Regions from separate parts of the Homo sapiens genome. Here all the other regions are linked to region 3. Evidence: fine-mapped QTL for protein levels in blood plasma. Region 3 holds a variant in brackets. A gene starts in each other region. All regions are shown on their forward strands.

Evidence for each region. PIP is the posterior inclusion probability: the model's chance that the variant is causal. Protein levels are from antibody-based Olink assays in UK Biobank. Linkage for the fine-mapping came from a reference panel and not from the study's own genotypes, which makes the PIPs less certain.
Region 1: ADGRE1 starts here. The variant in region 3 is fine-mapped to the plasma level of the ADGRE1 protein (UK Biobank, PIP above 0.99).
Region 2: it holds the start of LAG3, and the variant in region 3 is fine-mapped to the plasma level of the LAG3 protein (UK Biobank, PIP above 0.99).

What each region holds. Positions count from the first base shown.
Region 1 is chr19:6,885,165-6,889,460 of GRCh38, forward strand. It overlaps ADGRE1 (adhesion G protein-coupled receptor E1), which reads left to right and starts at 2,415. Exons shown (of 21, transcript NM_001974.5): 1 at 2,415-2,475. The coding sequence starts at 2,445. RefSeq lists an enhancer at 2,409-2,468.
Region 2 is chr12:6,770,746-6,774,745 of GRCh38, forward strand. LAG3 (lymphocyte activating 3) reads left to right here and starts at 1,775. Exons shown (of 8, transcript NM_002286.6): 1 at 1,775-2,165; 2 at 2,447-2,594; 3 at 2,952-3,256; 4 at 3,850-4,000. The coding sequence starts at 2,108. It overlaps PTMS (parathymosin), which reads left to right. Exons shown (of 5, transcript NM_002824.6): 5 at 1-207. RefSeq lists a silencer at 3,035-3,364.
Region 3 is chr5:71,367,367-71,371,715 of GRCh38, forward strand. All of the region lies in intron 2 of LINC02197 (long intergenic non-protein coding RNA 2197), which reads right to left. Among named protein-coding and RNA genes, the nearest start is that of LINC02197, 77 kb to the right of the region's middle. The variant T/A (reference allele first, on the strand shown) is at 2,333.

The sequences.
Region 1 (4,296 bases), not on the chromosome of region 3:
GGTTTCACCATGTTGGTCAGGCTGGTCTCAAACTCCTGACCTTGTGATCCACCCGCCTCGGCCTCCCAAAGCGCTGGAATTACAGGCGTGAGCCACCGCGCCCGGCCAAATAATTTCTTTTCTAAAAAAGAGCAGTCTGAAAAATCAGCCGGCAGACATAGAAAAGCAAGCTGGAAGCTTGCTCGGGTGAATGCCGGCAGCTGTGCCAATGGGAATAGGCTACCTGGGTGCCAGGCGTGTTCAACATGCAGGCTTGCTCCATGTTCCCTTTTCTTTATCAACCACGTGTACGGTAAAGGAACAGGCAACATGGTCCTGGCCAGGTAGAGACCCCATCTGCATAATAAAATATTAGGGTGGGCAGCCAGCTTCTTTGTACTCTATGTAAACGGCACACCTGGTCCAACTAATCTTTGGGCCCTTATGTAAATCAGATATCACCACCTAAAGCTCATCTATAAAACCCCGTGCATTTCACCATGAAACTGGAAGACCCACTTGGGAGCCCCCTCTCTTTGCAGGAGAGAGAGCTTTTCTCTTTCTCTCGCCTATTAAATTTCTTTTCTTTCTTTCTTTTTTTTTTTTTTTTTGAGATGGAGTCTTGCTCTGTCACCCAGGCTGGAGTTCAATGGCACAATCTCGGCTCACTGCAACCTCTGCTTCCCGGGTTCAAGCGATTCTCTTGCCTCAGCCTCCTGAGTAGCTGGAATTACAGGCATGAGCCACCACACCTGGCTAATTTTTGTATTTTTAGTAGAGATGGGGTTTCACTATGTTGCCCAGGCTGGTCTCAAACTCCTGATCTTAGGTGATCCACCCGTCTCAGCCTCCCAAAGTGCTGGGATTACAGGCATGAGCCACTGTGCTCGGCCTAAACCTCTGCTCTAAAAGTAATTTTTTGTGTGTCTGCATTTTATTTTATTTTATTTTATTTTATTTTATTTTATTTTATTTTATTTTATTTTAAGACAGAGTCCCACTCTGTTGCCTAGGCTGGAGTGCAGTGGCACGATCTCGGCTCACTGCAGCCTCCGCCTCCTGGGTTCAAGCAATTCTCTGCCTCAGCCTCCGGAGTAGCTGGGATTACAGGTGCCTAACACCATACCACACTGGCTGATTTTTTGTATTTTTAGTAAAGACGGGGTTTCCCCATCTTGGCCAGGCTGGTCTTGAACTCCTGACCTCGTAATCCACCCTCCTCAGTCTCCCAAAGTGCTGAGATTACAGGTGTGAGCCACGGTGCCCGGCCATGTCTGTATTTTCTATTTCCTTGGTGTGAGGCAATGAACCTCGGGTATTACCCCAGATGGATGACACTGCTTCAATATCTGCCAGTCACTACACTTTGTTATCAGTGGGATTACATCAACTGGAGCCCATTCTATCTGCTTGGAGGCCAGGCCTGAAGATTCAAGGGGTTGACACCCTCTAGGAGCAAGCCTCAAGTCAACCCATGACTGACAGTAGGTGGGATATAAATACCTCAGCTCCCTCACCCCTCGGTTGGAATAACTGAAGAGTATGTTCCATGCCGCTCCCCAGTCATCCCTGGGGAGGTTAAGTTCCACTTTCTCACCATGTAACTTATTTGAAGACACACCCAGTATTGGCTCTTTGCCTTTCCTGATTCACTTTCTCCTCCCCCAGCTGGTGCTTTCTGGGGCCACCTTCTTGATAAACTACTTTTGCTAGAATCCTTGTCTGAGGGTCTGCCCTTGTGAGACCCTAAGATGTTACCAGAGAGAGTTAGGAAGCTGGGAATGGGGTGGAAGTGTTGCTGTATAATCGTCAGACAGAGTTGAGATCTGAAGGAAAATAAGATGGTTAAAGCTCTTGACTCTGGAATCAGAGGGTCCTGGGTTCAAATCTCAAGTCTGAGAGATCTTGGACAAGTTATAACTCCTCTGCAAGTCTCAGTTTCCATTTTGTTGGTGAATAGAGGGAGGGAGGGGAATTCCTACTTTACAAGGTTAACATGATAATGAAATTACACTTTGTTGCCAATGTGCCTAGCACACTGCCTGGTACATGATGGTTGTGATGGCTGTCTTTATACGGGAGACTGGGAAGAGACCCTAAAGGCTGAGATTTGCTTCACTGGAGGCAGGAAGCGGAAGCTCCTTTATTGGGTGCAATGAAAGAAGGTGTTGAGAGATGGGAGATAGATGTTGATGGGAAAGAAAAAGGGAGAGACCATGGGAAGGAGAGAGAGAGAGAATGATATACATTAGGCAGATTAACTTCTCTTTATTGTGAAGAAAGGGGGAAATTAGGATTTTCTAGGCTGTCTTTTAGTTGCAGCAAGTCAGCAAAAAGGGCTATGATGACCAGGCAGCATTGAGCAACTCTGACTCCGCCTTCCCCTCTTCGCACACCTTCTGGTTACTGAAAACCCAGCGTTAGTAGAAAAGTTTCTTTTCTTTGAATGACAGAACTACAGCATAATGCGTGGCTTCAACCTGCTCCTCTTCTGGGGTGAGTGTGAGGCTGAATGGGGGGCTAGGGGAGGCCTGGATTGGAAATAGACTTCAGGAGAAATGGGAGGGCCATGGATGGTCCAGCCAAGAGATCATAAGTCCAGACTGGATGCTGCAAACACCTTCATTCAGGGAACCTTTGACAAAATTCCATAGCTCAGGGAAGTCCATCTGTTAGGATAGATTTTTCTCTATAGTCATTCATTTGACCTGAGCAAGTCCTGTGTGTCAGGTGCTGTTCTAGGCACTAGAGGATATAGCAGTGAGAAAAAAAGACTAAGTTCCTGCACTCTTGAGGCTGATATTCTAGTGGGTAGGAGCAGACAGGAAAGAAGGCACAGATGATCATAGCCCACTTAGCACTGCTGTAACTTCTTTAAACATAGAGTGTATCCAATTGTCACAACATTTCTATGACATTGGGTCATTATTAGTCCTATTTTGCAAATGAGAAAACTGAGGCAAAAGAGATAAAATAATTTTCCCAAGGCCACTTAGTCAATAAGGGGTAGAGGCAGGATTTCAAGCCAGACAGTCTGACTTCAGAGTCTGTAAGCTTTTCCACTATACTATGTTGCCCCAAAAAATAAGTAAACATAGGAATTTCAGGTAGTGATAAGTGCTATGAAAGAAGTTGTTATAGAATGTGGTCGGGAGTTATGTTGAAGGGAGAAGTCTGGGGTTGAGGAGGGGCAGTTCGAGCTGAGTCCTGAAGGATGAGATAGACCCTTCCTGTGCTCTTATTTCTCTTTCTTCAGGTGTCAGTTTGTCTCAGCCTTGTTTATCTTCTGTGTTTCTGGTTTTTCTTCTATGTCTTGTGTGTTTTGGTCATTGGATCAAATTTAAGAATGGAGGATATTGGGGACATATTCTAAGTAGCAAGTATGGGTTTCCTCTGCTGTTGAAGAGTGGATCTGAATACCCTATTTTACCAAGGAGGAAACTGAGGCACAAAGAGATTAAATAACTTCCTCAAGGCCACGCAATCATTAATTGGTGAAGCCAGATTTTTAAACCTAAGCACTTTGACTTCAGACTTTGTATGCCTAAACAGCATGCTGAATTACCTCTAAAATAATTAATGAATGAGTAGAAGAATTTTTGTTAGTAATAATAGATAGAATTTGGGAGTTTAGATCTGTGGGACTTGTTGACTGGCAGGCTACATTAGAAGAAATAGGTGGCCTGTGGACATCAAATGTAGGCATGCAGAGTTGTTATTTTGGGGTGTTGGCAATGGTATTAACCATTAACACTCCCTATTCTGCCCTGAAGATAATCAGCAAAGAGTTGTGATAATGATAGTGATGATAATGATCATGATGGTGGTGGTTATAATAGTGATGATGAAAATGGTGATGATGATGGTGATGGTGATGATGATGATGATGATAATGGTGATGATAGTGATAATGAAGATGATGGTGATGATGATGGTGTGATAATGACCATGAAGATGGTGATGATGGTGATGATGATAATGGTGATGATAGGGATAATGATGATGATGGTGGTGATGATGGTGTGATAATGACGATGAAGATGGTGATGTTGGTGATTATGGTGGTGATGATGATGATGGTGGTGATGGTGATAATGGTGATGGTGATGATGATAATGGTGATGATGGTGATAATAATGATGATGATGATGGTGATGATGAAGATGATGATGGTGATGATGATAGTGATAATGATGGCGATAATGATGATGGTGCAGGAGACCTAAATGCTGCAGGGCTGCATTGCCTTTAAACACTAAAAAATGGGCAGGGCGCAGTGGCTCACGCTTGTAATCCCAGCACTTTAGGAGGCTGAGG
Region 2 (4,000 bases), not on the chromosome of region 3:
GCCTCTCCCACCTAACCTCTGCATCCCCCAGCCTCATGTCCTGCCCCATCCCTATCCTGCCTGATCCCTGGATCTCCCTCAGATCCCCTCTTCTCAGACAGCGCCAGGCCGGGGTGGGGCCGGGGTTGGGGCCGAGCCCCACAGCTGCCCCCCTCCCCTCCCTTTTTGTATAATTTAATAAAGAAATGGTCGCGCTTCTGTTTTTAACCTGTCTCCTGCTTTCCCGGGGGCTCCAGTCAGTGCGACAAAAGGGTAGAGAGGGAGGAGGGTGGCTGACCTCCCATTCTGCCAGGACCCTTCCCTTTGATACAAAAGCAGCAGCACACTCCTACCACCCACGACTCAAGAAGACAAGATCAGCCCTCCAGGGGTGGCCTGGAGCCCAGCTCTTCTGAGAGCTGACTTATGTCCTGTTTTGGATTCTCAGGGATGCTCCTCCCCAGCAATACACACTTCCCTGCTAACCCACACAAGACCTAGACACTGCTGAGCCCAGTGGAAAGCTACCAGCTCTATTGTGCTGAACCAGGCACAGAGAAACAGCCCAGAAACAGGAAGTCCTTCCCCTGAGCTGGGAGAGGGCTGGTAGTCCTGGGTCTCAGCCTGCTAGGATCTGGAGTGAGCTGCCTGGCATCAGAGATGCCCTCTGCCTGGCATGGAAGCGAGCTCCTTCCAGTCAAGCAGGGAAATCCTGGGTCTCGTGTCATCCCCAGGTCGGCTGTATGTTTCGTCACCTGCCCTCCAACTCTCCCTGGGCTGGGCTGGGGAGCGGGAGTTGTATGACTCTTGTCAGTCTTGGGCCTTCCCTAGTCCCACTGCCTCTGTTTCCCCTGAGTTTGATCTCTGTTAGGAGATTTCTAAGATTTCTGCATTTCTCCATCTCCGCATGGCCCTTGCCTTCTCCTCTTAGTTCGGAACCTCTGGACTGGAGGATGCTTCTGAGGGCATGGGGACCTGAGTTGGAGTGGGGAGGGGTGTTGACTCATCAACAGCATCATTTCTCCCAGGAGACGCCCGTAACTCATCCAAGGTCAGGACTACACACTGTCACGCACACAGGTACACTCACAGCTTTTATCTTCACGCTCCCTAACCTTGGCAAATTGTACAATTTCTTTGAAGCTCAGTTTCCTCATCTGTACAATGGGGAAAAGCATTAGATTTCATGAATTACTATAAGTAAAGTGTCCAATACAGTGCTTAGCACGTAATGAAGCCTCAATACAATGTAGTTATTCTCCATGCCCCACAAAGCTGGCATGCCTAGCCTCAGACCTACCATTTTTTGGGGTGCAGTAAGGCTTCCTGTCCACCATGTTCCCAGGGACATTGTACTGATGGGTGGAAAGGCAGGTCTAAAGGGGTCACGAAGTTCTGGGAGGTTAAGGGAACGAGGAAGGAGATTGAGCAACAAGGAAAGAGCTTGCCAAGAAGGAGGTGTGAATATTGGGACTGAGGAGGCAGCTTAGAGATGGGCAAGGGGGCAGTTCCAGGCAGAAATGGTTCGTGGAGGCAGAAGGTCCCTGGGAGAGGGAGCAGTCTGGAGGGTGGGGCAGGGGCGAGGAGGGGGAGGTGGGGAGACCCAGGACTGAGGAAGTAAACAAGGGGAGCGCCACCACAGAGGTGGAGAGGTGGAGGGTGCTGCTGCTGGGAATCAACCCCCTCAGACTTTCCACTGCGAAGCGAAACCGTAAGCCCTGGGGTGCGGGGGGCGGGCCGGGAGGAGGGGAAGTGGGGAAGGTGGAGGGAAGGCCGGGCACAGGGGTGAAGGCCCAGAGACCAGCAGAACGGCATCCCAGCCACGACGGCCACTTTGCTCTGTCTGCTCTCCGCCACGGCCCTGCTCTGTTCCCTGGGACACCCCCGCCCCCACCTCCTCAGGCTGCCTGATCTGCCCAGCTTTCCAGCTTTCCTCTGGATTCCGGCCTCTGGTCATCCCTCCCCACCCTCTCTCCAAGGCCCTCTCCTGGTCTCCCTTCTTCTAGAACCCCTTCCTCCACCTCCCTCTCTGCAGAACTTCTCCTTTACCCCCCACCCCCCACCACTGCCCCCTTTCCTTTTCTGACCTCCTTTTGGAGGGCTCAGCGCTGCCCAGACCATAGGAGAGATGTGGGAGGCTCAGTTCCTGGGCTTGCTGTTTCTGCAGCCGCTTTGGGTGGCTCCAGGTAAAACGGGGATGGCGGGAGGGTTGACCTCCAGCCCCACAGGAGGGGACCAGCAGGGATCTCTGTGGCCACAAAGGTCCTGAGGTCCTTAGCTCTGTGGATTCTTCTAATCCCTTTTTTGGGCAGTCCTTCCACCCCGAAAGCCTCTCTGGGCAGAGAAGAAACAGAAACCCAAGTTCTTCCTGCACCCTGTTTCTCCCTCGGGAAACACCCAGGCTCCTTCTCTACCCCTGCCTCTCGGCTCACGCCCCCTCCCCTTGGCCTCTCTTTTGCTCACCTAGTGAAGCCTCTCCAGCCAGGGGCTGAGGTCCCGGTGGTGTGGGCCCAGGAGGGGGCTCCTGCCCAGCTCCCCTGCAGCCCCACAATCCCCCTCCAGGATCTCAGCCTTCTGCGAAGAGCAGGGGTCACTTGGCAGCATCAGCCAGACAGGTATGCACCCCAAACTTGGGCAACAGGACCTCCGAATCCAGCACTCAACCCCACACCCGTGCCGGTCCTCTGTCCCCTGCCCTGAGGTGTCACTCCCTCTGAAGCCAGTGACCCAGTCTCCCTGCCCTCGCTTGCACCGTTCCTGCCCTTGCTCTGCAATCAGCGACCCTCACGCCAGCATCCCTTCTCTCCAGAAGTGGATGCGGCCAGTCCAACAGAGGGGTCGGGCGTGAGGGGACGGTTGGTGGTCAAGAGAACTCTTGGGGCGGGCTTTCTCATCCTCAACGGGTGGCTGCCTGCATCCTCCCGGGCTTCCTACCCCTGGAGCTTCTCAACTCCATTCTCTTTCCCGCCCAGTGGCCCGCCCGCTGCCGCCCCCGGCCATCCCCTGGCCCCCGGCCCTCACCCGGCGGCGCCCTCCTCCTGGGGGCCCAGGCCCCGCCGCTACACGGTGCTGAGCGTGGGTCCCGGAGGCCTGCGCAGCGGGAGGCTGCCCCTGCAGCCCCGCGTCCAGCTGGATGAGCGCGGCCGGCAGCGCGGGGACTTCTCGCTATGGCTGCGCCCAGCCCGGCGCGCGGACGCCGGCGAGTACCGCGCCGCGGTGCACCTCAGGGACCGCGCCCTCTCCTGCCGCCTCCGTCTGCGCCTGGGCCAGGCCTCGAGTATGTGGGGCGGGACGATGGGAGAAGGGCTGGGAGGTGGGTCCCCATCCCCTGCCTCCCGGGACGCAGGAAGGGCTGGGGCAGAGGCTGCGCCCTAGGCCCTGTCGGAGAGCTCCCAGAAGAGTAGAGGAAGGGGGTGGGCGGCCTGCTGGAGTGGAAGGTGCCCCCGAAGCACGTGTATGGGGGGCCCTGTGGAGAGATTGTGTCACCCCCGAGCTCCCCTTCTCCCACCCACGCGGGAGTGCCCAGAGGGAGGGGGAGGGGGGGAGAGCATGGGGCTAAAGTGATTCATTTCAGATATCTGTAGCTCAGGGGGTGGGCTTCGCGGGGTTCCAGGCCAGGAAAACGGCAAGGGTGGCTGATGCCAAGTAAACTCCAGGCCAGGGACGGGGAAAGTGGTCCTGGGGAGTCTTGGGGATCCACTTTATGCACCTCCAGGTGCTGGAAGCTGAGATGGGGAGAGGGTGATGTGGGAGAGGAGAAGACAAGTCTAAAGCCAGGTGCCTGTTTCCAGGAGCTTCCGGCTTGGCAGCCCTGCTGTGTTGGGAAATTGTTTCCAGTGGGCTGATGAAGTCTTCTTTATCCTTGCACAGTGACTGCCAGCCCCCCAGGATCTCTCAGAGCCTCCGACTGGGTCATTTTGAACTGCTCCTTCAGCCGCCCTGACCGCCCAGCCTCTGTGCATTGGTTCCGGAACCGGGGCCAGGGCCGAGTCCCTGTCCGGGAGTCCCCCCATCACCACTT
Region 3 (4,349 bases):
TAGATCTGAAATGGGATAATGGTGGAAGATGAGGAACTACCACTGATCAAGTAGCCATATTAGCAATGATGCAGTTTGCACAGGGAAAACAAGAAGGAATAAATAAGCAAATGGGAGAAGAATTACAGAGAACAGTATCCAAGATGCTTCAGTTCAGATAATATTTTGTTTCATTATGAGAGCCTGCACTTAATTTTCCACCAGTTTACCAAGCTAGCGTGACCATCATGACCTTGTACCATCTTCAGATTCCACGAATGGTAGATGAAGAGTTCTACCCATCACTTCTAATAGGCAAAGATAGCACATGCCTACATGCACTGATTTGGAAGAAGGACAAGGCTAGAGATGGTGAGCGTTCCGCTTGAGCTATGGGCTATTAGCTTGTGGTAAACATGACTTAATAGTCAGTGATATGGACTTCACTGGCAGGTCTCATTCAGATAATCCCACAGTTCTTCTACTTCTTAATATAATATTTTCTAGGATAGGGGGTGGGGTGTAGTTGGGGGATCCATCAGGTGAGTTGAGAAGAGGAATGTGATAGGAACTTTTGTCACTGTTGGAAAGTGCGTGGGTGGTGACATTGAATAGATTCACTCAGGGAGACAAGTTAGCATATCTTTCATCTTTTTATAAGCAGCTGAGTAGAAAGAAATTGAGCAGCAGGAAAGGAGGGACAGGATACAAGAAAGTGTCTTTTCTTCCTCTCCATTCTTACAATGTCCTGATTCTTCAGCCCAGAGCTTTAAATATTTTTGTAACTACTTTCTTGGGGAACTGTCATGTTAACAGTAATTTTGTATATATTGAGCTCCTAAAGCTATGGATGCTTTATAAAGCTACAATGTAAATTTATTTCTCTCCATAATCCCTGTCACTTTCCCTGTCTCCACATAAAAAGCAAGAGACTTAACATTTCATTATTAATTACAGCAACAGCAAGTTGGCTGTCAGAGTCAAACCTCCACACACTCCCCCCACCAAGCTGCTGAGCTTCCAGCCATTTACTCATTAAGCTTATGATGATGATGGAGTTTTTAAAACCTGCTCTTTGTAATGGACAGTAGACCTTAAAAATCTGTCATAAATTGCTCAACTGAGGAAATCAAATGGCAAAGAGAGTGAACCAGTGTAAGAGCAAACAAATTGCACCATAAAAGAAAGTAGTGTCTTTAACTGAGCTTTTATTTTTACAAAGAATGTGAAAGCAACTTGGAGACTGTAAGTGGATGCTGTGAGACTGTTTAACTAAGAGCAGTTATTCACATTAAAGAGGCTGAACACATAAGGAAAAAAAAAAAAGAAAGAAAATCAGACCAAACAAAAACAAAGGAACAAAACCGCCTTAGAGTGTTTTCGTTTTTCAAATGATATGGTACTGCTGAGTAAAAATGACTAGGTCCATTTTTAAGTGTATTTTTTTCCTTAACATTTTAAAACCAGACTACATAAGATAAAAGCATATTACAAGGTGAATACCGATCAAGTTAAGGATCTAAGCGTATAACAGATTTTTCTCTCATATTTCATAAGAGATTTTTCAAAATGCACATTAATTCTGATATTTTTATTCATTTATTCAGGAAATATTAATGAGGACTGTTGAAGTCAAAATAGAAATGTAAAGAGGAATCTCTAAATTTAACATTTAATTAAGAAATAAATAATTTGCAAATCAGGGCATATATTCAGACCGAGTGGTCTTCAGCATGTCTGAAGAATGAAGAGAAGGCTGGAGGTTTTACTAAAAAAAGAAATATTAATTATTGCTCTTTGAGAAAGTTCATTAGCATTGGTAAGGTTCTGGGAAGCTGGAACGTCTGACTGGTGACTGATGGTGGGTAAAGTAAATCTTAGATTTGTAGCAGGTTTGTTTGGCAACTATTAGATAAAACAGTTGTGAGGTTACAGCAGGCACTTTCAGCAGCCAGACTTGCAGTGAATTACATTTTGGGAGAGCAATGTTTTGTGTCCTGAGTGCTTTTTGCCCCTGCCCTCTTGACTCTGTTTTCACTGGGTATGACGAGAATGCCCCAATTCAAATAATCAGCTTTCACAGTACCTATTATGGTCCAGTTCTTTTCTCAAACACTTTGGAATTCAAGAATAAACTAAACAGAAGAAAATCTGACCCTGAAGAAGAAAGTAACAAATAAGTCATAAGTATAATGGATAGGTAAGTTATATTGCAGATTTGAAAGAAATATGTGATGAAAAATAAGAGAAGTAGAGCAGGAAAAAAGAAATTAAGATGGTAGGTGTGGTGGAAGGAGAGGAGGCAAATGCAGGCTCAACCAGAAGGTAAGAAGTCAACAAACATTTTGGAAGG[T/A]AGGAGTTGTCAATATGGACAACATGGACATCTGGGGGAAGAGTTCCATGTGGAGTGAGGTTACCCTAAATAATTGAACTCGCTGGAAAAAAACACAACTCTCAATTTTACTACATAGAAGCTCTTGTAAATGAGAGCAGATGAGCTGTTACTTGTGTTGTGTCCCCAAATGAAACAGCTCATTCTAACATGGGGTAGTGTGCATCAAAGACAAATCATGCCATCTCACAATAAGTATACCCACCAAGAACCTTTTGGAGACCTATATTTGGCACTAAAAATACCATTATGAAGAAGAACTTGTATGCCTAATTGCACCCATGCTTTGGTCAATCCTCAATTATATATACATTATAATCAACCACATACAAAAGTCTAATATGTGCATTTACCCTGTGATTCTGTTTTATTCATATTAATAGAAGCATGTTTCTACCACTGTGGTGTCATATTATTCAATTATTTTGAGTTTTAAATCCCAGGGACCGACTTTACCTGAGTATTGTAGCTCTAAAGTTGGAAAGAAAAAATAATGCTGATACCATAATCAGATAGACATAAACAAAAGTGGGAAGAAATCTGCTATTGTGATGAAGCCTATATCATTTAACACCTGAAACTTTGACCAAGCAGAATAAATGAATGAATAAATAATTAAATAAATTAATAAAATGATTCTGGAATTGTAAGCAAGGGAAGATGAAATGATCAGTAGCAAATAACCAAACATGAGCTGACATCATGAAGAAAATAGCAAATTCATGAATTATTCTAAAATCGAAGCATTTGTTAGTCTTAAGTGTGAATATCTCTCTATGAAATTCTTTAATCTGGCCTTACAGTATGATTTACAAAGCACAGTTTCTATTTCTAAGAGCCTCTTACAACTCAAAACTTGCCTTACAAATTTTCTTAGAAGTAATCTTGACAGCAAACACATATTGTTTGAACTTTGTTTTTCATATTTTGTACATTAATTGCCATTCACGTTTTAGTAGTAAATTCTACGTGGTCCCAGGTGTGTGACTGTGCATGCAAGTTATATCAGAACAGGCCTTCCCAGCTTTGTCTTATCGTTATAATATGCAAACTATTGGCATAATTCTACATCTCCCTAAAGATTTTTTGAGTCTTTTGGGATTGATGGTCTCTCTCCCTCTCTCTGGATGCTGCTTTAGGACACTTACTAAGTATACTACTGTGTCTTTCTCAGTGATTAATGATGACTAGATTAATTGGCTTTCTCTTTCATTGTAAGTTCCCCTTTAACATTTCTGATTTTAATTGTGAGAAATAACCCTGCGCATGCATGTATTAGAAGTCAGGGAAGATCCTCTTGATCCATCCCATCAATTTCCCAGGAGCAATTGGCATAATTTAAATCTTCATCTAACTATTCTCCTTCAATTGTAATTGGTGCCACCTATTTTTAAAGTAGCCTATTCTTGTAACATTAACGTTATTTTGATAATTTATTGCGACCCCATTGCCAAAAACAGGCACAAGGGCGCCATAAATAAAGCAGTCTGATAATTGCTTAAACAAAACTGGGCCCCATGGACCAGCAATAAACTGTCATTAAGGTTAGGCTGGAGAAGCACCTGCAATTTCTCTGGATAACCTCTTTTATTTCTCTGTGTACACTACTGCTCATTTCAGAAAATGACAGTTTTGAAAGAGATCAGCAATTTGTTGAAACAAAGAATGAGAAAAACATGGTCTTGGAGGTATAATTTACTTTTACATTTTGAATTAAAAAATAGAAAAAGATATGTTGAAAAAAATTATCATATGAAAACCATAAGATTTCTACTGTAGAGCTAGAGCTATTTCACAGTTTAAAAGCTTGCTCCCTTTGTGGTAACTTTTATTTGTTATTTAAATTCAAGTTAATCTTCCCTGACTTGTAGTACTAAAAAATAGTACTCATGGTCTTTTATTGTTTTCATGCACAATTTAGATAATGTATTTTAGTGTTGCAGCTTGGCTCAGCAATTTTAAAGATTTAGGTTCTGAA